Linked DNA regions of Homo sapiens. The protein of the gene in region 1 interacts with the protein of each later gene in a biochemical or structural test. Each region holds a gene or a part of one and is shown in the gene's direction. Other genes may lie near its edges. The genes, in order: SORT1, LRPAP1, BDNF and NGF.

Evidence for each region.
Region 2: the proteins of SORT1 (region 1) and LRPAP1 form a complex in vitro, tested with the Homo sapiens proteins (4 studies listed by BioGRID and IntAct, with this or other methods).
Region 3: the proteins of SORT1 (region 1) and BDNF form a complex in vitro, tested with the Homo sapiens proteins (2 studies listed by BioGRID and IntAct, with this or other methods).
Region 4: the proteins of SORT1 (region 1) and NGF form a complex in vitro, tested with the Homo sapiens proteins (3 studies listed by BioGRID and IntAct, with this or other methods).

The regions. Positions count from the first base shown.
Region 1 is NC_000001.11:109,310,786-109,317,979, reverse strand, and holds part of SORT1 (sortilin isoform 1 preproprotein), read left to right. Parts: intron 1-10; coding exon 11-127; intron 128-1,021; coding exon 1,022-1,130; intron 1,131-3,201; coding exon 3,202-3,308; intron 3,309-3,595; coding exon 3,596-3,719; intron 3,720-3,922; coding exon 3,923-3,937; 3' UTR 3,938-7,194.
Region 2 is NC_000004.12:3,522,299-3,529,492, reverse strand, and holds part of LRPAP1 (alpha-2-macroglobulin receptor-associated protein precursor), read left to right. Parts: intron 1-4,441; coding exon 4,442-4,586; intron 4,587-7,194. UniProt on the Homo sapiens protein: Molecular chaperone for LDL receptor-related proteins that may regulate their ligand binding activity along the secretory pathway.
Region 3 is NC_000011.10:27,690,262-27,697,455, reverse strand, and holds part of BDNF (neurotrophic factor BDNF precursor form isoform a preproprotein), read left to right. Parts: intron 1-6,315; exon of another isoform or gene 6,316-6,350; intron 6,351-7,194. UniProt on the Homo sapiens protein: Important signaling molecule that activates signaling cascades downstream of NTRK2. During development, promotes the survival and differentiation of selected neuronal populations of the peripheral and central nervous systems.
Region 4 is NC_000001.11:115,335,240-115,342,725, reverse strand, and holds the start of NGF (beta-nerve growth factor precursor), read left to right. Parts: upstream 1-4,476; 5' UTR 4,477-4,522; intron 4,523-7,486. UniProt on the Homo sapiens protein: Nerve growth factor is important for the development and maintenance of the sympathetic and sensory nervous systems.

The DNA.
Region 1 (7,194 bases):
ACTCTTGCAGTGATTTTGGCTACTACCGTCCAGAAAATGACTCCAAGTGTGTGGAACAGCCAGAACTGAAGGGCCACGACCTGGAGTTTTGTCTGTACGGAAGAGAAGAACACCTAACAACAAATGGGTGAGGTGGCCTTTTCTCCCTTGTCACGATGGATGAGGTGTTCTTGTTCAGAGTGAAAGCTGCTTCTCTCCACACTGAGATCCAAGCCCTACTTTAGAGCACTATTTTTGGCGGGGTTGGGGAGGGGCAGGATATGAAGGCCTCCTTCAAGGGTCAACTACAGGAGGTGAGCCATGAGTGCTTGGTGTCAGAGGACTCAACCCCACCAACACCACGAGGCAGAGCAGGAGAACAAGCTCGGCCAGATCCTGCACCCCTGCCTCCCGCCCAACCACCCCCAGGAAGGGAGGAGAGGCGAGGGACCCACAGGCAGAATGACAGAAGCGTCCCATCCGCCATGAACGTCCATCGCTCGTCTGGCACAGTTTAGGCACAGCCAGGGAGAGCTCTGTCTGATAGGACTTTCTTTGGTGATGGAAGTGTTCTGTAATTTGCTGTGCCCAATATGATAGTCACTAGCCACACATAGCTGTGGACACTAGTGTAACCGAGGAACTGAAATTTTCGTTTTAATCAATTTTAAGTAGCCACCATATTGGACAGTGCTGCTCTAGACGGGCCTCATTACCTCGCTCCCCTGATAACTTCCCCTCTCCCATTTTGTACCACTTGTTAATGAGCTTTTTTGGGGTCAGATTTCTTTGGCACAGTCTCTTAGGTAGAAAGAACAGGCATGTTTCTGACAGCAGGGGACAGAGATGCTTAGTTTGCTTAAGGCCTGAAACTACACAAAATATCCCCCAAAACATCCCTGTGGACATTCCCCCCAGGCCTGAAACATGACGTAAGGATGGGAAGCTTTTCGGCAGCTTTTCAAATCTTGTTTCCAAGAAATAGGCAGGTACCCAGGAATACATCCTTATCTTCTGTTACCAAATCTTCTTTGCCTGGTAGGTACCGGAAAATTCCAGGGGACAAATGCCAGGGTGGGGTAAATCCAGTTCGAGAAGTAAAAGACTTGAAAAAGAAATGCACAAGCAACTTTTTGAGTCCGGAAAAACAGGTATGTTAAAATAGGTCTAGTTTTCAGGTACAAATGGGATTTTGTGTTCTGCTAAGAAAAATCAAAGTTAAAGCATCAAGAGTTTTGTTACTGATAAAAAGTGGTCAAACTACTTCTCTCAGGCTTCCCTTATACAGGAAGCTGTTAGCATGAAGGATGGGTCATGTAACCCAGTGATAAGCTCACCCTACTGAAAGCTCTTTTCTTATTGAGGGTTGGGGGATGATATTCTGTAAAGTTGTAAAATTCTTAAAATCATACAGTTGTGGAAATTTCTGAGGCTGAGAGTCATTTAGGAAAACAAAAAGGTTGTCTGTGGGCTGGGTACAGTGGCTCACACCTGTAATCCCAGCACTTTGGAAGTCCAAGGCAGGCAGATCACTGAGGTCAGGAGTTCAAGACCAGGCTGTCCAACATGGTGAAACCCTGTCTCTGCTAAAAATACAAAAATTAAAATTACAAAAATTAGCTGGGTGTGGTGGTTTACGCCTGTAGTCCCAGTTACTCGGGAGGCTGAGGTAGGAGAATCATGTGAACCTGGGAGGTGGAGGTTGCAGTGAGCCGAGATCGTGCTGCTACACTCCAACCTGGGCAACAGAGCAAGACTCCGTACCAAAAAAAAAAGGTTGTCTGTGAAGGGCCATGACCTGGAATTGTGCATGTGTGGAAGAGAAGAGCACTGGGCAATAGGTAGGGTGGATCTCTGACCAAGTCATGTTAAGTATGTTCAAAGTGAAAAATTGAGCTATGGTAATGGGCTGGTTTTGATTTAAATGAAGCAAGTTACCTGTCGGGCATGGTGGCTTACTCCTGTATAGTCCCAGCACTTTGGGAGGCTGAGGTGGGGAGATCAGTTGAGGCTATGAATTGGAGAGCAGCCTGGGCAACATGGAGAAACTCCATCTTTACAAAAAAAATACAAAAATTAGCCGGATGTGGTGGTGTGTGCCTGTAGTCCCAGCTACTCAGGAGGCTGAAGGGAGAGAATCACCTGAGCCTGGGAGGTCAAGGCTGCAGTGAGCCATGATCATATCACTGCACTCCAGCCTGGGTGACAGAGTGAGATCCTGTCTCAATTTAAAAAAAAAAAAAAAAAAAAAAGGTTATGAGGCTGCATCCAAATCTGTAGCACTGAACTACCTGTGGAACTGGAGATGTGTAAAGAGGAAACCTCTTGATAATGAAACACTAGACCAGCAGCATGACTTCAGATGCTCAACAGCAGGCCCGTTTCCCAATTCGTAATAGGAGAGGTCAAGCTGGATCACCTGCAGTCCCTCCTCTCTGCTGTTCTAAGGGATGAGGGACTGACAAGGGGTGGGATTAAGGAGATGATGGGAGAGGAGTGTGTGAGTGTGTGTATTGGTAAGGGGGCGAGTTCCTCCTTCTGTGCACCCTTGTCCTGGGCTCCTGGTGACTCTCCTCAGAGTGTTCGTGTGTGTGATTGCACAGGACTCCCACCCACAGGGACACAGCTTGTCCTAGAATCCAGCTCTGCCTCCTCTGGGATACATTGAAAACACACACTCCCTATTTCCCACCCAGAAGCAGGTAGGTCACATGCAAACAGTGATATGATAAGGCTTATTTATAATAATATATAAAAAATTAAGTAAACAAATAAATCTTGGTGTCATATAATGGCCTGCCTGGTTCTTCTGACACAGCTTCTTCCCAGATAATGGCCCTGTTCTAGAGTCATTCAGCCTACTGTTACAGTAGTCTCCCTTTCCTACTCCACCCTTAAGCCCCAAGACTTGTGAACAGTGGTAGTGTGAAGCAATCATACTTGATCTAGGCAGTTGCCCAGGCTTCCAGTGTAACTTTGACATTTAAACCACAGAATTTGAAGGTTCAAGGCAGTTGGAGCTAAGATGACTCTCTGCCAGCTATAATATTCTCCTGGTAACACTGAGATGGTTCATCTTGGGGGGTTGGAAAAGAGCCATCATTAAGCGCATCAGGACTGCAGATCATTCACAAAGAGATGAGGGGAATGAGTGGCTGCCTTGACCTCAGTCCTAGGATATGCATGCCTAAAACTTTTGTGTTTGTGTTTTAATTTCTCAAGAATTCCAAGTCAAATTCTGTTCCAATTATCCTGGCCATCGTGGGATTGATGCTGGTCACAGTCGTAGCAGGAGTGCTCATTGTGAAGAAATATGTCTGTGGGGGAAGGTAAGGAACACAGAAGTCAATCCAAGGTACTGAGTTCAAGCCAGAAGGCTGATCTAGGGCATATGGCTGAGTCTACTCTTGGCAAAAACTAGGTACTTGCAGTACTGTTCCTGAAAAATCAGGCCCAAATCTTCTCATGTCGTACATTTTTCATATGTCAACCATGGACTGTGCTTTCTGTGTCTGTGATGCGTTCCTGAGTGTATAAAACTGAGAAAGTCCACAGTCCTGTAAGAAGTGCACCCCTGCTGTGTACCACCGAGTGTTAAGGAGGTTTCTGTTCACAGGTTCCTGGTGCATCGATACTCTGTGCTGCAGCAGCATGCAGAGGCCAATGGTGTGGATGGTGTGGATGCTTTGGACACAGCCTCCCACACTAATAAAAGTGGTTATCATGATGACTCAGATGAGGTGAGGCTATTTCTTCTTGAATGGTAGTACCCCCCCCCCCAAAAAATACAAGAAAATAAAGTCTGTCTTCTATTCATGATCAAGATATGCCAGGGCCAAGGCGACTTAATGACCATAAGATTTGGCAAGCCCAGAAACTAGGTGATTGCTTTTGAAATAGGAGTGTTGTGGTCTGTCGGTAATATGGTGCATGTCTTTTTCAGGACCTCTTGGAATAGCTCTTCAGAGGAGCTGGACCCAGCATGGATGGTGGAACCACAGTACCTCTTACACTCCCTGTGGCTCCAACTTCAGGAAATAAATTTCCCATTGCGAGGGACCCAGCTCTGTTTCTGCTGCTTCCATCAAAGCCAAAAGGACCTACACTAAAGAAATGCAGGGTGGGGGTGGGGAACCCTGAGCACTTTTTTACAATTGGCTCTGAGAAAAAGGGAGACATTTTAAATTCTTTAACTTCTTATTTCTCGTCCTGTCTCTTTGCAAAGTATGGGCTTTTTTGTTTTTGTTTTTTAAGGGAAACGAAATGGAATTCGAAGGGACCTTTTCACTAACCCCACTTCTGTGTGTTCTGCATGGCGCCTGCCCCAGGGCATCTGCCAACTCCAGTATCAGCTCTCACAGTGTACTTGGTACCATCCCTGGGCTCTGCTGGCGAGACGAAACAGCTGTAGAGATGAAAACAGGCTGCAGAGGCTGGCACAGCCTGGCCGGCTTTTCTCCATCTGGGGACAGTCCTACTCCAAGAACACTGCACACCAGCTCCTCACACAGATCCCACTTACTCTTTTTTTTTTTTTCAGAGACCACAGACCACAGTGATTTTTCTTTTCCCTTGTTTAATTAGGCAATACCCTTGTTAATTGCCCTTTGGCAACTAACTTAACCATGTGCTTCCCACACAGTACATCAGGAAAACTTACAGGGCAATATTTTTAACTTGGGGCAGGAAGAAGGGAGCAGCAGAGAATTGACTAGATATAGCACCTATTAAAAGAGAACTCTTGCTTCTTCTGAGATTTTTCAAGCTGTGCTTTGTGTGTGTGCCAGTAGACTTACGCAAGGACAGGGTACAAACTTAGCTGGAAGTCTGCCCAGGCTGAATGATCTCTTCCCTAGAGTTGATTGTCGGGTACACAGTGTGAACCCCCGAAGACGGAACCTCACAGTCTTCCATGTTCCCTTCTTAACTGTCGTGTGGCTCGTTGCTAAATCATGACAATGGCTGCCTATCTGCTGCTTCTTAGGTTGCTGTTGTACATGGAACCAGGACTAGAGATTTTTTCAGATTTATAGACTTAAAAAATTAGAATTTTATTACCAGGCTTTCCTTCTCACCCCTTTTTTCTGACTTTGCCAAGTAATTTGTTGACACGAAAATTTTGGAGGAACCAATTGAAAACACACTTCCAGTCTAGATGATGCTTTGTGTGATACATTAAGTTCTTATTTTGGATTAAAAGAAGTTTTCCATTTGATACCTCTCTAAATTAAATAAATTATAGAATGTAGTTGGGTGGATTTTGGGGTGGCCATATAGTAATGGAAAGCTGCAATAATTAGTTTTAATACAGCTTGAATATTTGCTATATAGAAATATAGTATGGAAAGTTTTTGGTCTTAATGTAGCTACTGTGCGGGTCACAGTTTCTCCCAATGATTATGACTGGGACATTCTTTGGTAGATACCATTTGCTACTAGTTTATTTTGTGGCTAGAAAGTCAGTTTTGTGTGTTTTTTTTTTTTTTTATTTGAAGTGCCAAATTAACTTTAGTCAGAATGTGAGCAGATGGCTAAGTTCTCTCCTCCCCAGAATGGATTAACAGCTGCGTGGAAAGTGGGGGAGAGAGTGGATGGAGACTTTTAGAGATGTTAAAACTGCAGTAGAATGAAATGAGTCAGGGAGCTTCAGTTAGAAAATAAAGTTGAGGCAGTTTTTGTGAAGATAATATGGTTAGGGCTGGAGTGCACTAGTCTTTTTGCTTATTCATTTTGCATGGTTTTAAAATTAAAAATAATTCCGAAGATACACCAGCTCACAAATGAAAACGTCAGCCTCTGCCCCACCCTCCCTCCTGCCCAAAGTGAATTTGGTACTCAGAAAAGAACTGTTTATACCACTCACCTTTCTCCCAGCATGTACTCACTGTGGGCAGATGCACCAATACATGGTAATCCTCTTACTCATTTTAAGACGTAGGAAACTCAATATTCTTCTCTAACCATATACGATAGGGCTCTTCGCTTTTAATGATATCTGGGATTTCTGTGGAACTTGGCAAATTTTCAGAGCACCTTCACTCACATAATGTCATTTGAACCTCACAATGTTCTTGGGATGGAGTCAGTTGTTCAGGGTCCCCGTGTGTGTGATAAGCAGTGCTGGCTGGCTGTCTTCAGAACTCTTGGAAATCTTTACACATGCGAGTGCTAACCACTTTGAGCAAGGCTGCCTTCTTGTAGATGACTTGCTGTTCTTTATGACAGGGATCAGTGGCATTTGTTTCCTAGCAGTATTTAGCACCTTTTTGCCACCTTGGTGAACAGAAAATTGTATTTTCCTGTCTTTCATGGCTGAAAACAAAAGTAATGGGAATTTTAAATACGTTTGCAGAAACTGCCCCTCCCCTCATTGAGGGTCACTGCTCAAGAGTGCAGGAGTGGACTCTCCACTGATGGGTCTCCCTCCCCATCCTGGTTTCCACCCCGGGCTGGCTAGCTCTGTTGGTTTGAAGACTGACAGCCAGCCTGGCTCATTCTCATTATTGGCTAGTTAGCTTTCTTTATCAACCTGCTCACTCACAAATGTGTGCCCTCAGCCAGAGAGTAAGAAAGCCCAAATCTGTTACAGCTTCTAAAAAAATAGATTTCTAATTTGTCCTACTCATGTTAGGAGCATTATCTTTGAAGGTAAAACATAGTGTATCATTGTGTAAACTCCCAGGCTTGATGTAGCAGAAGAGATCATTTCTGGAGGCTTCAGCAATGGAATTTAGCATTATAAGAGAGATTGGACAAACCAGTCCAAAGTGGTCCGAGTTCTTAAATCCAGGTAGGGAACTCACTCTTCTTTCTTCTCTGGACCTAATTGGGCATTGGGCTTTAGTGAGACCACAGACCAGGCCCGTCTCTCCTGTAGGCTTTTAATTCAATGGCAACTCTATTTCAAAGAATAAAAGCCTTTGGAGAGTTGCGGCAGTTCTGGGGGCGGGCTCAGGAGAGTCCATAGATCAGCCGTAACTGGAACGTAGAATCTACGTCTGCCTCTGAATGGACTTCCCACCTCCTCTCTCTTGCTCTGATGCTTGCCTCTGGGCCTCTCCATGCCCAAGGTGGTCTTTCATCCTTGACAGGCTGGTAATGTGCTGGCCACCTCCAGCTCCTGCATCGAGTCTGTAAACCAGAGCTGGTTCTCATGGCCTTCGTCACGATACCAGGATACGGAGGGGAGCCCAGGGCCATCCATACCCACCCCAG
Region 2 (7,194 bases), on another chromosome or scaffold:
TGTGTGTTGTGTTGATGCTGAGGAGTAAGCTCCAGGGTCTGCATGGTCCAGCTGCGGCGCTCAGGGACACACTCGTGTACCTCTTGGCCTGGGCTGCACGGTGCCATGAGCTCGGAGTCCTTGGCCATAGGTCCTTAGTTTTTTTGGTTTTTTGTTTTTTTGTTTTTTTTGAGACAGAGTCTCACTCTGTCGCCGAGGCTGGGGTGCAGTGGCGTGATCTCGGCTCACTGCAACCTCCGCCTCCCAGGTTCAAGCGATTCTCGTGCCTCAGCCTCCTGAGTAGCTGGGATTACAGGCATGCACCACCATGCCTGGCTAATTTTTATATTTTTAGTAGAGACGGGGTTTCACCATGTTGGCCAGGCTGGTCTCGAACTCCTGGGCTCAAGTGATCCTCCCGCCTCTGCCTCCTAAAGTGTTGGGATTACAGGTGTAGTCCCAGGAGGCACCGCACGCAGACAGTCCTTAGTTCTGACGTGAATGGTGACTGCAATGAGAGTGTGTGAAGCATCTTGTTCTCAGAGGTCTGACGAGTGGAAACTGAGGTCTGCAGAGAGGAGCCCTCAGAGCCCCACCCCAGCTCTCAAGCGTCCCCCCTGGCTTGAGAAGGGCCTCTGAGGATGGGCCAGCCAGTGGCCTCCATGGGCACCTAGGACTCGCCAGGCCAATGCATGACCTCACAGCAGCTCAAGGCGGGTACGGCTGTGCCCTTGTCCACGGAGCTCAGGTGGAAGGAGCTGGGGCACAGTGGCTGGGCTGGGACAGTGCATGCCACCTGCCGTGGTGAGACAGGTACAGCGTGCCAGGAAGCCTTGGTCACCGCCACAGCCTGCTCCTCATGGTGGGTGCCTTGCAGTCTGGCGCGGGCACTCAGGTGAGCGCTGGGAGGATGGCACATGCCCTCTGAAGAGGTGGTCCATTGGCGGTCCTGGTGGCATTGGAACCTGCCCAGCCTGAACTGTGCGGTGTGTGCAGGTTGACACCAGTGGTGTAGCTGTGGACCCTGGCCTGGGTTTCCTGGGGCGTTGAGAAGCAGCAGCAGGTTATTGGAAAGTTCCAGAAAGCTCTGCTGGCACGCGGGTGGTGCTGTGTGGGGAAGGGCCACTGCTGAGGTCCCAAGCAGTGCTGGGCCCTTGGGTCTGGTCAGGAGGACACGGTCGGCTCTGCTTGTGTCTGGGGACACAGGACCGGCGTCGTTTGATCAGCTGAGCCGGCTTTCTTGCCTGCATGTATACCCTGGTTGTTGATGATTTGCCTCGCTGCTTCATGTTTGACAGGTTCTTTTCTGCAGTTGGTTTCCACAGGGTACTTCTAACTTGATGCGTTAACATTTAACTTGAGAGAGGTGAAAGAATCCAGACGTGGGGTCTGGGGTCTGCACGTGACCTGCTGGTCTTCCTCTGCACAGAGCTGGGGCTGCTTTTTGTGGTGGTGCTGCCAGGCTGGCCCCTTCTGCGCTGAGCACTGGCAGCCACACATCAGGGGAAAGGGAGCTGGCTTTTGTGAGACATGCGGTGTGAAATTTAGACCCCCTGTTGCCTGAGAGTTGGGGAATCAGAGGGAGAAAATGACTTTCCCCTGTGGGTTGCAGATTTTACAGCCCACAGAGCACCTGCCCTTGATTCTCCCAGCACCCTAGGGAGGCAGACAGGAAGCCAGTGAGGACTGCAAGTTACAGGGGTTGGTGCCTGGCTGTGAGCCTGCCAGGATGGGCCCAGGACTTCAGCAGCCCTGGGTCTTCAGCTCCGCTTTCCAGCAGGCAGCCCATGGGCAGTCATGGGACACCTGCATCCTCTCCCCTGCAGCCAAAGAGGGCAGACCCGGGGCCCCTCAAGGCCAGCACACACTTGAGAGCATGGGCCTGAATTGCCTGCCCCAGGGTGCTGCTTCTGGCTCAGACCATCACTGTGGGCCTCGCATCTCAGACCCTCCCGGGCAGTGCAGCACGGTAAGTAAGGCGCCTACAGGGTAGCAGCAGCCACGGGGAAGTAGAGATGGAAGCAGACCTGTTCCTCCAGGAGTTTGGGTCACAAACAAGATAGGCAGGTGTGGGCTCCCCCTCCTCCTGAGGCACCGACTGCCCCTCCTGAGAGTTCAGCGTCACTCAGGTGCCTCATTGTCCTGGGTCCTCCTGCTGGGAATGCTCAGATCAGACCTCAGGTCTCCTAGGGCCTTCCAGTGGACGCCGCAGGCAAGTGTCCAGGGCACAGAGGGGCACGGGGTGGAGCTCTGGGGAGAAGGGGCTGGGTGGATGGGGCTGGCTGGGTGGATGGGGCTGGCTGGGGAAGAGGCACACAGGTAGGGGTGTGTCGAAGGCTGCCAGGGAAAGGGTTTTCAGGTTGGGACAATCCTGGAAAGCAGCCCCTGCAGAGATGGGGGCGCAGAGCATCTACCAGGAGGGCCCAGACAAAAGACTGTCCTGGGACCACCCACTAAGGGTTAGAGAACCTTCTAGAGAATTAGAAGCTTTCCTCTGCCCTAGGCCCTGCCATTCATTTTGTGCCTACCGTTTGCTATCTTTTTACCATTGGGGATCTTGGCTCAGTAATCTGAATTCATCCCTAACTAAATTTTAAACTCCTGGAGGGTGGGGCCTGTGTGGCTAGGGCAGCCACAGAGTCAGGCTGGGCTTCTGAGAGAAGAGAGGGCGGAGCTGACAGCCCCAGCACCCAGCTGGAGACAGGGCCTGTGGTCAGGGGTCTCCTTCCTCCCAGGCCCAACACAGACTGAGCTGCAGGGAGCAGGATGGGCTCAGTCTAGATACAGGCAGAGTGAGGCGAGGAGGTTCCGGAGTGTGGGGTGTGCCAAACACACAGAATTGGCTTCGTGCGAGTCTTGAAAGAAACGTGTGCCCCTGCGCGGCGCGGACCTGAGGGCTGGGCCTCCTGAGGTCTCGGGCTGCAAGGCAGTGTGGGCCACAAGGCGGCGCGGGCTGCGGGACACTGGGAAGGCAGCCGGCTCTTGACGCTTCGTGGGGATGTTCACTGTTTTACGTAAACTTTATTGAAATATAACACACATACTTTGGATACTAGCTTGTGTTGTATTTATGTTAGAAAATAGCTAATGAAATATAGATAAAAGATTAATATTTCAAACGTCTAAGGGAAAACAGACTCCATATTTAAACACACATGATCAGAGACAGGCGTTAGGTGATGGGCACCTGGAGCTCAGAGGCAGGAGCTGGGGTTCCCTCCTAGAGCCACGGGCAGCTCATGAGGACCAGCCCCGGGGGAATGTGAGAATGCAGGTGCTCAGGGAAGGGGACCCTCCTGAGAGCCGAGAGATTTGGGGATCTGCACTGCACAGTGCCGAGCACTTCCTTTGCTGCAGGACTCCACAGAGGCTTTAATGCGCTGGCGTCACTACAGGCATGCGGTGCAGCCTCCCCAGTTAGCCAGGGACAGCACCCTGTCTCCGTGAACCCTGGTCCCACCTCATGACACGTTCTGGTTCACACAGCTGGGCCACTCTGCTCTGCACGGAAGAGCCTTCGCTTCCCTGAAGGGCTAGCCTGCCCCAGCGCACGCCTCTTAGCGGCCGGGCCAGCCCCGAGGCCAGAGTTGATGAGAGCTGGCCGGTGGGTTTCATTCTGCTGCTTGCCTCGGCCGCCTGGCATTCTGGCCCAGTCTTTCTGACGTGGGGACACTCTTGGCCTAAATCCTGTCTTTGCAACCAAAAAGCAGTGTGCCCAGCGGTCACCTCACTTGCTTCCTTCTCTCACCCAGGGTCCCAGAGCTGGGAGGGCAGGGGTGGGATGAATGAAGCGTGGCCTGCCCTGCGGAGAGGGATGAGGGTGGGGCGGGGAAGTTCCTCAGCCCCAGTGCGGCAGCTCGTTCCGGGGCGCTGCCTGTGTGGTCTACGCCAGCAGGTAAGTGAGAGGGTGACAGATTCCTGCTCCAGAAGGATCTGGGGCTGTGTAAGAACCGTCTCAGCAAGACAGTTCGGATCATGGTACACTTGAGAGGTGGTGACTGAGGGTCTTTGGGAAATGAAGATGGGGCAGATCTGAGATTACAGTGATTTTTTTTAAAAAAGAACTTCTAGGTGTCTGTGTCCTTGCAATATGTATCTGCAATGGTAATGCAGTGGGTATCTTCTTCCTGCTCTGTTTATCCGAGTGCCCGATGACTGTCCTCAGGTGCTAGGGTGGGGTGTCCTGTTACAGCCGGACAGGAATGAGCAGCCGCTGCTGGTGGGGAGCCCCCGATGGACTTGGGGTTTCCGGATCGTGTATACAGACAGGCCTAGAGACTGGTGTCCATGTTGAGTTCTTGTCTAAACCTGTGGGGTTTGAATCCTGCTGACAGTGACCCTGACTCCACCTCTTCCTGGTCTCCCAGAACCTCCCGGTGGCCAGCCTCCTCCGAGGTCAGTTTCTCGCTGTGTCCTGGTCCGTCCTGCTCGTGGCTCACAGGCTCCTCCCCTTCGTTCGCAGCTGCATCTTCCTCCCGTGAGGCTGGCCGAGCTCCACGCTGATCTGAAGATACAGGAGAGGGACGAACTCGCCTGGAAGAAACTAAAGCTTGACGGCTTGGACGAAGATGGGGAGAAGGAAGCGAGACTCATACGCAACCTCAATGGTACGTTTGTTTCTTTCCTAATGCAGGTCGAGTATCCCTCTTCCTAAATGCTTGAGAGCGGCAGTGTTTTGGATGTCGGATTTTGTTTTTGGATTTGGGAATATTTGCATTATGCTTAATCTGGATATCCAAAATGAGCCTTTCCCCGAGCATCCTGAGTGCCCAGAAAGCTTAGGATTTGTGTTGGGGGCTCACCCTCATGAGGGAGGTGGCCACTGGCTTCAGTGTTTGGGGGGGCTAACCCTCATGAGGGATGGTGGCTGCTCGCCTCAGTGCTGTGGGCTACGCCTCTGACTCCTTGGCTTTTGGCCAAGGGGCCCATTGGGCACAGCCTGCGGGGGGCTATCCTCCGAGCACAGATGCGCCCTTGGCCGTGGTCTCAGTTTGCTGTCACAGATGCCATTGGCACGCCAGAGGGAGGGCCAAGGCAGGGGCTCTGGGTGCAGGAAGGGGCCGGAGGACAGCAGGAGGCTCTGTCACCCAGAGGAGGAAGCAGGTCTGCCCTAGCATCTTGAAGTTTTGGGGACATACTCCAGATGTCATCAGAATGGACACTTGGTTGTCATGCGCTTAGTGAGTCCTCGTCCCTGTGGGTATTCAAGAAGAGGCAGGACAGTCGCCTGCTTGGTACCAGCATACGGAAGACAGGTGTGTCCTCAGAGCCGGGAGGGTTTTAAATGACAGAGTTGCGACTGTTCCTTTTGGACCCCTCTCCTCCGCCATCCTCCCTCACCACGGGCCCGTCGGCAGGGCACTGGCGGGCAGAGGACGCACACCAGGTGGGCCCGTGGGACTGGGGTTGGGGCTGCTCCGGAGAGTCGAGTGCTCAGCTGCCTGCTGTCAGCTATGTGTAGCAGCCCTAGGAGCTGCTGTGCCTCCACCCAACTGCTGCCCCTGGGCCTGACCCCAGGCACCCCTTCCCCAATCCCCTCCCCCGCTGCTCCCTGTGTGACCTGGGCCCCCGGCACAGTCCCCTGCCCCCCACCTCCGTTTCCTCCTCCTGTCTCACAGGACGGTGGTGTGAACCAAGTGGGATACTCCCCACTGTGGTGGGGGTGGGGGTGGCTGCCATCGCACTTGTTGCTGTCGTGAGGGTGGCCCCAGAGCCCTGGCCATGTCTGGAGTCTGCTGTAGCCCTGCTTTTCACACGCGCTGATGGCCTCAGGCATTGCAGCGCCCGGGTTGTCTCTGGTAAAGAGAGGAGGTGTCTACGGAGTTCCTTCGTTAGGCCTGATGCTCTAACACCTACTCCTCAAAACTCGTTGTCGTCCCATTTGACAGGCTCAGAGAGGGTGATTTGTCTGGAGTTGCAGAGCCGAGTAGTGCAGCAAAGATTTGGAGTCAGGGTTTTCTGACTCCTGAGCAGGTGGTCTGTTCCCAGCCACCCCTCTTCTCCCATTGGCAGGCATCAGCAGACATGTCATGTGGCTGCGCCCGGGTTAAAGACAGAGGGCCGGCTTCATTTTTGCTGGTTTATGCCACCATGTTCAAGAGTCTGGTTGAGACGTAAGCCAAGATACGGCGGCAGGGACTGCCTGGGGAAGAGAGACATGGCTGAAACAATTCTGGATGGTTGCGTCCCCACCAGCGTGTCTAGTGGGCCATTCCCAAGGGCCAAGAAAGAGCCTGTCCTGGAGGTGCCCCCAGGAAGAAGGGACTGGCTATGCAGCAGGGCAGCATTCGGGGCCTGGAGGAGACAGAGTAGCTTGCAGGGGGCACAGAAGTGGGCTAAGAACCAGCTCCCTCCTGCAGGCCAGGCAGTGTCCTTGCAGGGTGTCCAGGTCTGTGGCCCAAGTGGAGCTGTCTTGTTTTCTGCCATTGCCTAGTGACCTGGCAGAAAACTTAGTGGGACTCTAGGAGCCGGCGTCCCAGAAGCAGACCCTGCCCACACTCAGGAAAGAGGCTCGTCCTGGCCAGTTCCCCGCCATCTTCTGGGTGTGGTCCCTGGACCCCCGAGGTCCCCCGTGCCATTATCAAGTGTGATACCATACCTGGGGGACCAGCCATAGCCAGGTGTGCCTGCCCTTGGCACCCTCCATGCTGAGGTCCACCCTGAGACAGACGGGCCACGCTCCACTCTGCCCTGCCCTGCTCTGCTCTGGGGTTCGCTCCTGTCCTCACCCCCACCGCGCCCCCAGGGCCACTTCACTCCCCAGGCAGGGAGTGTGGGGCGGCGTCCGTCCTCCCCAGGCAGGGGGTGTGGGGCGGCGTCTGTCCTCCCCAGGCAGGGGGTGTGGGGCGGCGTCCGTCCTCCCCAGGCAGGGGGTGTGGGGCGGCGTCTGTCCTCCCCAGGCAGGGGGTGTGGGGCGGCGTCCGACTTCCCCAGGCAGGGAGTGTGGGGTGGCGTCTGTCCTCCCCGGGCAGGGCGTGTGGGATGACGTCCGTCCTCCCCAGGCAGGGAGTGTGGGGCCGTGTTCATCCTCCCCAGGAGCTCTAAGGGCTCGGTGCTCCTGAGGCCGCCTCCAGCTTCAGTGCTCTGTGACTCCATTCCATGCAGAAGAACCCAGCACCTCCAGAATCCAGAACCTTCCATAGTCCCTGCTGCTGATCGCAGCCGTGGGTACTCTGCCTTTTGATGGGGTCTGACCAGCCACTTTGGGCTCTGGCT
Region 3 (7,194 bases), on another chromosome or scaffold:
TTCTAAAATCCTGGCTCAAAGTCCGTGGGTTTCCTGTTTAAAAGGGGCGCCATGAAAATGTAAGCTATTCCCTTTTTCCTGGAATCTTTAAGAGTCCCAGCTTTTCAATAGTCAAAATGTAGATGATTGATATCATTTCTTATATGAATAGCACTGGTTTGTAGTTCAGCACGCACAGTGAGCTGGGCACGCCCACCTGATAGTATAGCAGAGAACTTGTTTACATTCTTTTTACATTCATCTTCTAAAACCTGGGGTGCTCTCTCTCTCTCTCTCTCTCTCTCTCTCTCTGTGTGTGTGTGTGTGTGTGTGCGTGCACGTGCGCGTGTGTGTAGAGGGGGAGAGAGAGAGAGAGAGAACTGTGAACTGTGAAATATAACACAGCCAGCAGCTTTGGGTCTCAATCGTAGACTTACTCTTAAGGAAATTTACAGAATGGAAAGGTCATGTTCAAGTAGTTTATTAACATTTTGAGATGTAGGAAATTAATCCCGGAGTACAGAAGAACAATTTCAGACTTCCTGAATAAAAACAGACAGCATAGAGAGTGGATGATAGCTAAACTCTGAATATCTTTTGAGAAGAAAGGCACTCCCATTTCAGGTGCCCATAATATGGATTTGATTTTAGTGATTAAAACATTAATTTTCAACTTGCATCTCCCTGTGTGGAAGAGTTCAATTTGTGTGAGGGGTCTCGCCTATCCAACAAAAGTGAATATGTCCCTTTTATAGGGTAATTGCTAACTTGTCTCAACTTGTTTTCAAACAATTGTTATAGAGCACTCAGTTTCCACTAATTGCAAAATTGTTGCTTAATTGAAGGACTCTCAGCCATCTAGTGCAGCCATTCAGCCACTGGCAGGCTCTGTGATCTCAAACTGTGAATTGCATTTTAAAGAGGAATCGAGGAGAGAATTCTGTGGAATTCTAGGTTTTAAGTGCTGGCTGTTGTTCAATGGAAGAGGAAATCATTTGAACAAGAATCGCATCAAGTTGTGTTGTGATAAATTTTCTTTATTAGGATGAATAACATGCACAGATGAGCTTCAAAAGTGAATGAGCAAACTTACTGGTTACACTCTGCATCCATTTACTCTGTTTAGTATGGAGTAATGTTAGGCAATAAATGATGCTGGCAAATGAAATCCGTATGTTATTTGCATGTGGTATTTAAACCTAGGAAACATAGAGTGGCTTTGGTATTTGTAGGCTTAGTCATGTGTGTCCTAAACGTCCTCTTAAACTTCTACTTAAGGCATAGAATTATTTAATCCTAAATAATTTTATACTTAAGTGCCTCACTGGATTTCCAGAATATTTACACTGTAAAGATTTAGAAAGGTCATGAACCCAATTATTGACTATATGGAATCATTATTGATGGCAGATGCAAAATGGAGCTCACTAATGTACTGACATTGAAAACCTTTTGCAGGGGAGAGGAGGGGGAGTGGTAAATGTGTGTGTTCTTTAAGTGGAACAGGAAGGTATTCTCTTTTCTGTAGAAAAATTTGAGTATCTGGTCAGATAAGTGTGGAAGCTTTCATTTAAATTAAGTATTTAAGTTCAAGTAGAAGCTCTAGGGCACTTATCCTCTTGATGAGACAAATCTTATCAAATATACTAGATGCTAAGAAGTGGCTCATTGCCCTGATGTCTCATTTATAGATTGATGTTTGAGGATGGGTTGCATTAAGTGAGTTAGGGGGCTGAGTGTGGGACAGGAGAACGATTGGAAGGAAGCAAAGTAAATTTACAAGCTTTAGTGACAGCCATAATAAAGTAAAAGTTTATTTCCAGAGAGCCTAGAGAGTAAGGAACGTTATATAGTTTTCCCCAAAGGTTCACTTGAAAGAACTTTTCATTGGTTGTCATGGTAGTAATGTCCTGATTTTGAAATCTCCCAGAACCTAGTAGCTCTTAAACATGCTTTCATCTTGGTTCCTTTGGTCTGACGGAAACTTTATGACGACCCTCTGTGTTTTTGACATGCCTCTGCATTTTTGGAGAGAGGAGGTCAGGCAAGGGAGGATTTCTTAAAACTAAGACAGTATAGTAAGGAAACATAAAATTATATGATAAAAAATCACTGAACTTCAAATTGACTTACTGAAATAAAACCTAGAAGGCAACCTGTCGTTTAATTACAACTAGCTTGTATAAAATTAAAATTTATAAAATGGGAATTCAAAGAAAATAAACGGGCAGTTCCAAGTAATTTAAGCAACTCACCAAAAATTGAAGTAATAGTGCCACCTAGAGAACAAAATCACCAGCTTTACTAGCCAAATGGCTTATTTCCATATGAACCATTTTTCCAACGCTACAGTTACTAGGATTTCCTTGTTACCATATTCAGATCTTGTGAGTGTGTATGGGGGTGGGGGTTGCATGTGGAATTACAGATGAAATTTTAAAACAAGCAGATCCACAATTTGATATATGCACTAAATCCTTTTAACGTTGTAATGTAGCCAAATGTAGAATAGCATGCCAGGAATCAACGGCTAGCATCCTTTTTAACATTTATTATTTTCATGGATATGTACCAAACCGAACCATTGAGTATAAAGGTTCTGATTTTATTTATTTGCTACAGGCAATTCATTATACTTTCTGAGATACAATAACACCAAATAATTTGAGTAGAGAGACCTTTAAGAATGTTTTCGATTTATGATCTACCTTTAACTTTAATGTACTCAGAAGATGTGAGAATAAAATAAAGTCAAATATAAGCAAGATTTTAAACACACACACAAAAAACAAACAAACAAGAAAAAGGAAGAAAATTATAAGGATTGCCTTAACCTTAGAATAGATGAAGGTATACATCTGAGCCAGCACCAAAAAAAAAAAAAAAAAAAGTTATGGAACCAGGAACCAATAATTACAAATTGACTTAAAATTCTTGGATGACAAAAATCTATATTTAGTTCATTTTTGCATGCGCCCACAACAGCATCCAAAACAGTTCTGGGGAGGCACTTTGATAAATGTTGCTGAATGCACTAATAGATTGATTAATGGCTGCTTCAGATTATCACTAGTGATGTAGACAGAAACTTCATGAAAATGGTTTGTCTTGCTGGAAGAAAGGCAGAAATTGGAGGAAAAGGTTTAATAATATTTTTCCCCAGTACCTATTATAAAAGTCATTTAGTTGGCTTAGTTCTATAATTTCTTATGTGTAATTTGATTCACTTATGAAATTGTGAATATATGAAATGTTAAAGTTGATTTAGACAGCAACTATAAGCTTGTGGATTTTCTTTTAAATGTCTTCAAATTTTTAAATGCCAGTGGAGATGCCAGCGACTGTGCTTCAGGGAGTAGAATATAGTATATCTTAAATTTGTGCCAATTTCTGGTAAGCAGAGAAAAAATTGCATGATAACCAAAGAAAGTCATATTGTTTGTGCTTTGTGTTATTCATGGAAGCAATCAGGTGCAGAAAACTTTCTTTTTCAGAAAAAAAAAATTACTAAAATAAAGGTGCGTGTGTGTGTATGCACATATATCTAAAGGGAGAGAGGGAGAAGGAAACTTACTAAATAAAATTTTTGCCACATGGGATTTAGTCTAATCAGTCTTGGTTTTGGAGTTGCTATCATCAGTAGTTCCATTTTGTGATTCTTTCTTTCTGCCTTCATGTGCCTTTGAAAACTGAAACTATGCCCAAATTAAAACAAGTTTTTCTGTCTTTTCACATGTTCACTTATTTCTTGAATGTGTTTTTAAACACAGACAAACTTCTTTTACATCATGTAGAATCTGAAGGTCGAGAAATTTGCAGTCATTTTGCTGGAGAGAGATGCTTGGCGGAGTCCCAGGCCACATTCCTAGGCCAAACTCTCGAAGGTATTCCTCTTATGCAACATTGGGAAAATACATCCAGCACCGACATGTTGGCTGATAATGTGTCTGAAGGCACAGACGATATGCTTATCATATGAAACATAAAGCCAGCAGATATTGCAGACATTCTGTTGAATGATAGAATCTGGATCATTTACATTTACTTAAATGTAAAATACTATGATTAAGTACAAAAAAATCAATTTAGGAGAGAATAGAGAGTTGCGGGCACGGTTTTAGGGGATGACTTATCAGCAGATTGTAGAAAGGAAGCTTGAATGTTTTAAATTAACTGCAAGTTCAGTATAAGCCAGTGGTGTGACAAGAGGCTGTTATCATAGCTACTGAAATTTTGGGCTGCACTGCTAGAAATATAATACTGAAATGGAGAAGCTAATAATTCTTCACTTTTTAAATAGACTGTATCTAGAATATTATCATCAGTTCAAGGAAATGAAATAAGTTGTTTTAGGTACATCATCGATAAATTAGTGTACATTCAAATCACTGTGACCAGGATGCATAGGGAATTTGAAAGCATTGCATGTGAGCAATGGTTGAGGGGACTTGGAATGCATGACTTAGGGACAAGAAAACTTAGGCTGGAATGGCAAGTGGTTTTTGAATGTTGGGTTGAGAAGAATTCTAAAACTGTGAAGGATTAGTAAAAATAACATTCAGATTGCTAATGCCTACTGTGGCTGGGAGATTAGAGTGTCAACATGTGTGATGTATTTTTGACATCCTTATTTTGAGGATGGGCTTCAAAGATTTGACGAACTGTCATAAGTGTAATTTGTGTTGCTTCAGACAGCAGTTCTAGAACCAATGATGTAAATTTAGATACTCTACATGGTAGTTAGAAAACTTTCCATTAATTTAATTTAGCAAATATTGAATGCTCACTGCATACAGAGCACTTTATTAGAGGAATATATAATAAAGAAAAAAGAGGTCTGGTGTGGTGGCTCATGCCTGTAATCCCAGCACTCTGGGAGGCTGAGGTGGGAGGATCACTTGAGCCCAGGAGATCATTACGAGTCTGGACAACATAGCAAGACCCCATCTTTACAAAAGACAAAAAAAATTATCCAAGCCTGGTGACAGGCACTTGTAGTCCCAGCTACTTGGGAGGCTGAGGCAGTAGGATCGTTTGAGCCCAGGAGGTTGGGGCTGCAGTGAGCCGTGATTGTCCCACTGCTCTTCAGCCTGGGTGACAGAGTGAGACCCCGTTGGAGGGAAGGAAGGGAAGGAAGGAAGAAAGGTAGGAAGGCTGAAATGAAACCCTTTTAGAAATGACACTAAAATGGGAGGTTGGAGTAAGGTATTTTCTGAAGTGCCTTTGTACTTGTTTTTTTCTAATGCATTGGCCATAAGTCTGCTCCTTATTTATAGTCCATAAACAATCCTAATGAGAACAGTTATATATTTCTGCCTTTGAATCATCTACTTGAAGTGTTTAGCATCATGAATTGAGTATCAGAAATCCCTCCCATTTCTTTGCAAAGCGCTGTATTTTACTTTTCCTTATTTGTATACAGATTCTCAAAATTGGCTATTTTTCCTTTGGGTTAGACAGAACAGAATGTCTGGAAAAAAAAGTTCTTATCAAATTCAGGTGCCCAAATTGCTTAAGAAATTAACTTTTGAGGTTATATTTTTTTAGGGTTCAGTAGCTAAACTAAGAAAACTTCTCACCGTTCACCTTCACTTTTGGAAACCACAAAATCTTCAGATATTACAGTTTTCCAAAGAGTTTCTCTTTTTAAATATAAACTAAAAGGAATTGACTCCTCCCCCAACTCCCTCAGGCCTCAGCATGGATAGAGTTACTTTTTTTCTTTAATAATTTATTTATAACTTATTTTGCTCTTCTGTAGAACAGCTGGAGATTAAGCAACATGGCCATGACATAAAATGCAAGTTAGACCATAAGATGAGCAGCCCACTCCAAGTATGAATGAGTACTTATTCTTTGTGATCTCTCATACTGCTTTTAGGTATTAATAGTGTCAGTCAGCAAAGCAAACAGTTTAATATTTACATCTCCTTTAGGATATCATATAGTTTATAGTTTGTATGTGTTCTTGCGTGTATGTTTTCTTCTGTTTCAAATTCTTTTTTCTTAAAGTAAGAATGTTATATGTAGCAAATGGTTCTTTCATTAATTCATTTGTTAATTCACCGTGCATTAATTGAGTGCCCAGTGAGTGTCAGGCACTGGGCTACTTGGATTTCTTTTCCCTGTATTGATCCATATATCTTCAGGTGCTCCTTGATATGGCTCTCCATTGACTCTCTCATATAAGGCTTTCATTACCTATTCACATACTCCCTCCCAAAGAGGACTGGTCCAAAAGTAAAATCTTGAGCAAGTTCTCTGAGTTATTTCAGAACTTCTTGCCCCCAAACTGTATTTTTAATTATTGACTGGTAGCATTTTGGAATAACTTACCTCTCTTTTTTAAAGATTGAAGTTCTTTATCCTCTCTGATTTTCAGGTGTCAGTTTGTGTACAAATTGAGACAATAAAAATGTTTGTTAGACATTTTCTTAAAGCATTTTGCTATGTGAGAATCTTTCATGAAGAACTCTTTTTAACAATGACTCTATAGCAGAAGCCACAGTAGAGGGAGAACTACTGAATCAAAGATGGTGTTTGAGTCTATGATTTTATGATGGATTTTTTTTTTTTTTACATACAAGGATATGCATGGGTCTTTTAGTATTCAGGAATCTGTTCTTCACTTGACAGTATTTATAAATTGTGTGTTTCCCCCTAAAAAAACTTAAATTGTGAGAATGCTTCCATTTACTAGAAGTTGGTTAATGATTATGCCAAATAAGGAAAATAAGACAGAAAAATCAGTTTAGTGAATACTATTTTGCCTTTAAATTTAGTAATTTAGTAACAGTATCTCTTTGGGGTTTACTAGAAACCACTTTTTAATCCAATAGGTCTCTTTCATTGTGAAGTCAGGAGGTGATTTTGCTTAAATGTGTAGTATAGGAATCTATATGTGGTGTTCAAGGATCATGTAAATATGCTGATATAATCGGAGCACAGTTTGGCATCATTAACTCAGAAATATTTAAACTCTTGCTATACAACATGGAAGCAAACTTGTGCATAGTTTGTGTGTGTGTGTGTGTGTGAATCTCAAAAAAAGAAAAAAATCACAGGATCAGGAAGTCGGAATAGGTCCCACTTTTCTTCTAGTACCAAACCTACAGCCATGTTCCTAGCCTTCTCTTTTACTCCCAAGCAAGACAGACAGGCAAATGACCATCCTGCTGCCCATTTCTGTGTATATTCACTTGCATTGAGAGTTGT
Region 4 (7,486 bases), 6.0 Mb from region 1:
TTATTATTACGGCTCAAGGAGGGTCAATCTTTCTCCCAAGGACACACCACTTAAGAGGACAGATGGGCTAAATCTTGCCAGTTCCAAACTGGTGACTTTCCTGGGCTGCAGGAAAAGAGCTGAACTGTCCTGGGCCCACGTGGATTTCCTGACCTTTCAAGAATGGGATCTGTGGGGCAGCTGCCTGGCTGAGTTAAGAGCAAGGGCTTTGGATGGAGGGGCTGAGAGTCAGAGGAGAGGCAGAAACACAGTCCTCGCCAGGGCCTGTGCAGATTCGCTGAAACAAGAACCTAGGTAGTGCTTCGCACATAACACTCAAAGTGTTGGTGATTAAAGGAGAGGCCAGAGTTGAAACCATGCTTGGAATTATAAAATTAGTAGAAAAAAACACCTGGAAGAACAAGAGTGGAGGAGAATGTAAAGCCCCAGGACTGAGTTGTGGGAGGCCCATGAGTGCAGAGGGCAGATGAAATCAGAGAGGTGGCTAGTAAGCCAGGATAGTGTGGTCACAGGAGTTCTGAAAGGAAAGTTGTAGACAAAGGAGGTCATGAATAGAGTGGACTAGGACTGTCAAAGTCAGCTGAGCTTGGCTGAAAGGAGGAGGAGGCGTGGCATTTAACAGCAAGGGATTGGGTTCAATTCTCTACTCAGCCGTTTGGCTAGCTATGAGACCTGGGAAGTGACTTACCTCTCAGAGTTTCATCTTATCTACAAATCAATAGGACCAATTAATAAGGCTAGGAAAAATGCCTTGCCCAGTACTTGAAATAAGGCAAGCACTAGATAAATGCTGCTGAGATTGTGTTGGTGTTGGTGGTGTTCTTGCAACTAACGACCTTTAAAAAAAATTATCAGTTTAGTAGGGAGAAAGGAAAGGTAGGGGAGGAAGATGGGAACTTGGTTGCAGAAAGTTTCGGGGAGGGGGTGCCAAGGAAATGATGGGTATAGATTACCTTGCTGAAGAATTTGGTAGTGAATGGAAGCTAAGAAATCCAGAGTTTGGGCTAGCAGTTTCTTTAAGAGAGAAAAGGCAAGTGAATGTTCACAAGCAAAAGCGAGGGAACTAGTAGAGATGGAGGAACTGGAGATCTCAGCGAGAAACAGCAAAAGCCAGGAACAGGCCACAGGAGTAGGCAGGGATAGCCCAGAGGAGAAGGGGGCACCCCTGGCCCTCTCTGCACCCTTGCCTACTTTAGCTCCTTTACCAGCTTTTTCCTGTAGACTGAATTGGTCAGTTTTTCTCCCAGCCTCTTTCAGGGAGTGTAGTAAAAGGAAGGCTTGCTTAGAAGTCAAAAAGCCGGACACTGGCCACGTGTATTTGGCTGAGCCTTTGTCCTTCCTGAGCCCTTGTTTCTTCATCCATAAATAAGGTGGCTGGATTGATCATTTCTGTGATTCTGTGAACATGTCATCTCACTAAGCATTATGAAACATTTCCTCTTCTGAAGTTCTTCTTCACTCTGATTAGAAGGAAGAGGAAAAAAAAGTCTTTAAACGGAAGCTATCACTTCCTCCAGCAATTGGGACAATATTTCTGTGTTTCACATGAAGAACTAGCAGATCCAGTGATTCCATCCTTGCTGGCAGATCTCTGCTGAGCCTGCTGGTGTTTTAAATAGCACATGCACTTTGTCCTGGCCTCCTGGAATGAAGCAAGGGAGAAGCCAGGGGTTTGTGCTAGCTGACTGTTGCTGTTGATGAGGCACTCAATGGCTGCAGCCTTCTAGATCTTCAGAAATAACAACAATTACTGTACACGCCACAATCTCTCCTCCAAGTCAGCAAATGCATCAGCTGCTGGTTATTTTGATACCCTGGATAAAAGGCTCTTTCGAGAAAATCTAGTACAGAAAAACATTCTTATCCTCTGCTTGTCTGCACCATTCCTCTGGCCGCTGCCCTCTCAGCTGTTTTTCATTCCTATGAATGTAGCTGGTCCAGGCCCAGAAGTCCTTCTCTCAATGACCCAAGAGAAGGACATTTCTGTTTGAACCTTCTTGAAAGTGGAAGAGGCAGGGGAAAAGGCACCTGGCTGTGGTCTCTGTGCCAAAGGCAGGCTGATCTGGAACCTGCTGGAAACCAATCCAGTGTTGGTGGGTTGTCTGACAGTCACAAATGACTCTGACCGTTGTTGGATTCAACAAGTATTAACTGAGCACCTACTATAGGCCAGGTCCTATGCTAGGACCTAGGGAAACTGTGATAAACATGGCCAGGGACTAATAATCAAGCCCCCACTAGAACATAAGCTCTCTGAGAGCCGGTACCACTGCCAGCACACAGTGCCTGGCATATGGTAGGCTCTCAATCAATAATCTTTGGAGTATTTTTGTGTTTGTTGTTTACATGTTCTTATTTACTCAAGATCCTTGAAGTCCAGGGACAGAAATAGAGGTAGTTAGGGGCAGAAAGGAGCTCTTATTAAATCAACATGTGCAAGAAGAATATGACCAACAATTTAGGGGGTGAGGATGGAGCATATAAGCAAACTTATAATCTGCTTACATCACTTAAAGTTTCCCCCTTACATACCACATGGAAAAGAACCACAAGTGTCCCAAATCCTTTTGTCCTTCTGAATGATGCCACAAGAACACATACAAATGCTCTGCATTCAACAACCAAATTCTCTGTTATTCTAAAAGTTTAATTTCATACCCAAATTCTCAGGCAGCTATTATGTAAGGCTTGGGGCTAGTGCTTTCCAAACAAGTTTATACATGACATGATTGATGGATGAATTCATCCTGTTATCTGGAAATTCTTTTGTTTAATTGACGATGATAAATTTCCTAATGGATCACCTCGACTATGATACTACTTTTGTAGAAAGGGCCATTCACAGTGTTCCCTGGCCTCTTGCCCTCACTTCCAAAGTGTGTTCATACACCAGCCTGTATCTGAACAAGTCAGAAGTGGACAAGCCTAAGGCTGGGAAACAACAAGGTCACACCAAAGCTAAGGCTGACTTCCAATTCCAGGGCTTTTTGCCTATTTCATCCTTCTCAGAGCATGTGTAAATGGAATGAACTTTCTTATGGGAGCAAACGTGAAAATAGAAAGAAGTAAGACCTCAAGACTAATCTGAATCAAGGGAGTTGGAAATGCCTAGTCAGGGCTTCATCTTGCTCAAGTGCCATCCATTAAGGGTAAATGACCACCCCCAGACTTAGGACAGGAATCATCTGCTTCACTAAATCCCAGTTCCCTGGAGGGTGCCCTTCTGCTAAGTTGCACTGGCTGGTGTTACCAGCAATAGGGAGATTCTGTGCCCCACCTTCCCTCCCTGTTACTCTCCTCACACCTACTTCTCCTCTGTGGCATCCATACAGGGTAGGGGTCCAACCCACCTTTGCTATAGGAAGAAGCGAAGGCACAGACAAGCTCAACACGGGAGGGAGTGGGGCTGTAAATTTCCAAAGAGCTACGAATCCCCTGGAATGCTACAATTAATGATGCACATTTGGTGACAAATTTGACTTCAGGGGTATTTCTCCCTTGCTCATTTTATGCTGGGGTGGGAACAGCCCTGGCAGAGGGGCAGGGGAAAGTCAGGCAAGCTCTCCTGTCAGGCTGAATCGAGGGAACTCAAGAAATTTTGAAGGGTCAGGAAGAATTTGTGTGGGGCCTGGAGTGTGGAGAGGGGGGCATGGGGGCCTAGGGTTTGCTGGCTATATCAGTCTGGGGTCACAGACCCCTTGCAAAACTGATGAAAGCTGCGGACCTTCAGCTCAGAAAAGAATATTAGCATTGCACACAGTCGCGCAAATCAGCCTACAGTTTCAGAGGGGCCAAGGACTCCGGGAAGTTCCTGGAACCCAGGGCCTTAAGTTAAGGTCCCGGCTCTAGCTCCTGACTCCTGAAGTCCTCTGCCCCTTGTCCCCATGCTGGACTTGCCGGGCCTGGGGGCCTTCTAGCTGGTTCTGCAGCCGCCTTCCCTTGTCAGAGGAGCTTGGGCACCTGCCCCTCGCGGAGCTCCCCCTGGGTGCTCACCTATCCTGGGATAAGGAAAGGCGCCCCGAAGAAAAGGAGCAGCCGATGCCTGGGGCACCGAGGGCGACGCCGGGCAGACCAGGGAGGCACTGGCGAAGGGCAACGCGCGGGGGCAGGGCGGAGAGGTGAGGGAAGCTGCGAGCAACTCCGCCCAGCCCCAGCCAGTCGGCCCAACGACCCCTGCCGGTGCCCCAGAAACTCCCCCTCCCGGCTTTGCGCGCGCGGCCCCTCAGACCCCAGTGGGTTTCCCTTTGACCTCTGAAGGTTTAAAGTCCTTCTCTGGCTGGGTCTGGCCAGCCCTCCAGGAGCGATCCGTCTGTAGTCCCCAGGACCCCCTCCAGCCGGGCACCACAGCCCAGCCACAGCAGGTGCGGGGCTGGTGGTGGGGAGGGGAGGGATGGGGGCCAGGATTTGGAGCGTGTGACTCAGGAGTACGGGAGGAGGGGCTAAGAATTCAAGAAGCCTGTGTGAGAGCAGCTCGGCGCTCCGGCACAGCAGAGAGCGCTGGGAGCCGGAGGGGAGCGCAGCGGTGAGTCAGGCTGCCCCGAGCCGATCCCGAGAGGGGCGCAGCGCGGGCGCGGGCAGGGGTGGCTGGGCTTCGCGGGAGAGTTTGCAAGGATACCGGTCTGGCGAGCTCTCTGGTTACCCCCGAGGCTCCCGCAGGCCGAAGAGCAGCCCTGAGAAATGTCCCGAGTGGGTGTGGGGGCGCGGGACCCTCGCGGGAGGACGAGTCGGACCGAGGGAACAGCGTTAGTTCTGGTCGTGGAGTCCCTAGTCCCAGGATGGCCTGCAGTCCAGGGAGCAGCCCTGGCGCCTGCAGAAGCCCACGGCCATGCCAGGGTCTAGCTCGAGGGCTAGAAGTGGATAACGCGCAAGTGAGGGAGAGCGAATGGGCGCGGAGAGGGATGCGCCGGCAGCTGGCGCGCCAGGGCGGGAGGAGTGGCGGCCAGCACCGCGGGGGGAGCGCAGAGCGCGCTGGCTGAGGTGAGCGCCGAGTAGGGAAAGTGCTGCGCGGCCCCCAGGTAGGGGGAGGAGCGGAACGGGGCGCGCTAGACCTGGGGCAGTTCCCTCAGCGCGTCTCGGAAGGGCTGGGAGTCGTGACTGAGGGCCCCGGGGGTTAACGCAGGAAGTCTGCGAGCCAACGCCGGGGTCCGTCCGGCGTACCGGGGCCCTCCACGGAGCCGCGTTGGACAACCTCAGGTAGAGGTCGCCAAGGTTCAGCCCTGCCACTTGGGTCACACGCTTCATCTCCAGCTGTCTGCTGCCAGGTGTGGGAGAAGCGGGCGTGGAAGGTTAGGGCGGGGAGCGCCTTGAGTTCAGGCGAGGAGGATCTAGGGGAGGGAGAGAGGACTCAGGGGTCAGGGAGCTGCAACTTTGAGCCAGCAGAAACAAGCAGCTTAGCTCCCTCTAATTACAAACCTCCTTCTAAAAAAAAAAAAAAAAAAAAAAAAAAAAAAAAAAAAAACAAAAACAAAACAAAAAAAATTTCGAGATTCTTAAGGAAGGTGTTTCGTGCTTGAACTTTTTCTTCTCTTGTGATTTGAGAGATTAAAAAAGAGCCTGCTTGCTAGGCTGGTTTTTCCAAGTTGTTCCAGGTTGGAAGTTGTAACAGTTCGAAGGATAATTTATGAGTGTTTCATGCATTAAAGTGTATTACAGCAAAGCCTTTTGGGTGCTGTGGGTATTAAGGAAAACTTAGTGCACGTTCCCAGCTGGAAACCAAAATAGTGCTCTCCTGGGTGCCTCTGCCCCATCTGTCATCCAAGGCCAATGGAAATCCTGTAGAAAAGTCACTTGATTAATTGTTCTGGCTCCATCCTCTGGGCACACCCACTGCCAGTGCCAGTCCCCTCCTCCCCAATCCATGCACAGCCAGCTGCACTCTGCAAATGCAGAAATGACAGTGGAGACCCCATCAGTAACTTCTCTCCAGGGTCCTCAAACTCTTGAAGCCGTCAGTTAAGTCTGCTGGAAGGGAATCTTTCCCCTTCTCGAGGCAGTGCAGAAGGGCAGCAGCCATTGGCCCCTGCCAGCCCTTCTTATCCTGTGTTTACAGTTTCCTCCTGAATGTCTGAAACTTTCTCCCTCTGCAGAGTCACAGAAGAAAGAAGAAAGGCTGTATCAAACCTGATGGGTCTCTTTTGTTGAATAAGTCATACGTCAACCTGAGCAACCCAAATGTCAATTCATGATGGGCAGTGTTTCCAGAGGGTCAGAGGAGACAGGCGGGTCTGGGGGCTGAGACTGGCCTAGCTGGAATTGACTCACACAGAAAGTGAACATTCCTCTTGTTGAAGGGGGATAGGGTTAATGCCACATGTTGCCAAACTCCTACCCCACTCTTTCCCCAACATCTTTATGCAGGTGAAGGGAAAAAGGAAGCACCAAAAATGGGAAGCCAAGATCACTGGGGCATGAGAACACTAATTTGACAGAAGTATAGGAGCACCTCAGAGGATTTTAGAACCAGCTGCTGGCACCACTGCATTTCCAACAGCAGCCCAGGCCCACCAGAGAAATGAACTGGGCCCACTCAGGGCAGTCATCCCGGTATTGGTGACTCTTTCCCTACTTTTAACCTGTACCAAGGAATGAGGTTCTTGCCTTCTCCTATTGCCCACCCCACAACTCTCCTGCCCCAAGGGCCAGTGGGAGCAAGGAATGAGGCTTCACACTCTCATTCTCTTTCAGGGAGAAATCTGTGCCTTGGACAAGAAGGGGGCCCTGGTTGCCGACATCAGCAGGGAGAGTAGGGTAGGGCAGGGCAGGGCTGGAGCCCGAGGGAAGTTTCTCATCATTACCGAGAATAAACTGATGAAAAAAATCACACAACTTTACTTTTTAAAGAGTGCTGAGCACTCCTGCTGCTCATTGATGGAGTGCTTTACTGCAGTACCCTGCATCAGAGCAGCAGGGAAACTACACAGAGATTCAGCCACTGCTCTTCTCTACTGGGCATGGAGTAGGGCCAAGGCCCAGATCCCCAAGCAGATGTCAGTGCCAGACCTGGGAGCAGAGGCCCAGCCATTTACCTTTTCCAAGTAAGAACTTTCACTGACTTCAGAGTCTAGAGCAAGCCTTAAGAGACCTTTGCTGGCAGCAAATTCTCTGATCTCAGGAAGCAGTGGAAGGTTTGCTGACGGCTTGCATAAAATCTCTGGATATCTGTGTGCAAACAACCCATGCTCCCAGAAAACACCTTTCTGTGACACAGAAAGAGTTCCTGTGTGTTTCTTTCACTAGCTGATCTCACAAACCATCAGCTCTCAGGCTTAGCCAGTTCTGAGAAATCACTTCTGTGGTGGACCATTTTGAGAAAACAGTGTACACTGGCATTGGGTAAATAAATGAGGATGAAAGACCCTTCCCCAATCCATTCCCATGAGACATCGCTTGATAACAGTGGGAAAATAGTTAAGATCCTAACTCCAAATAGCAGTAAGGCCAGGATGATCCTGAGGCTGATATGTGAATGGAGAAACTGAGGCTTTGG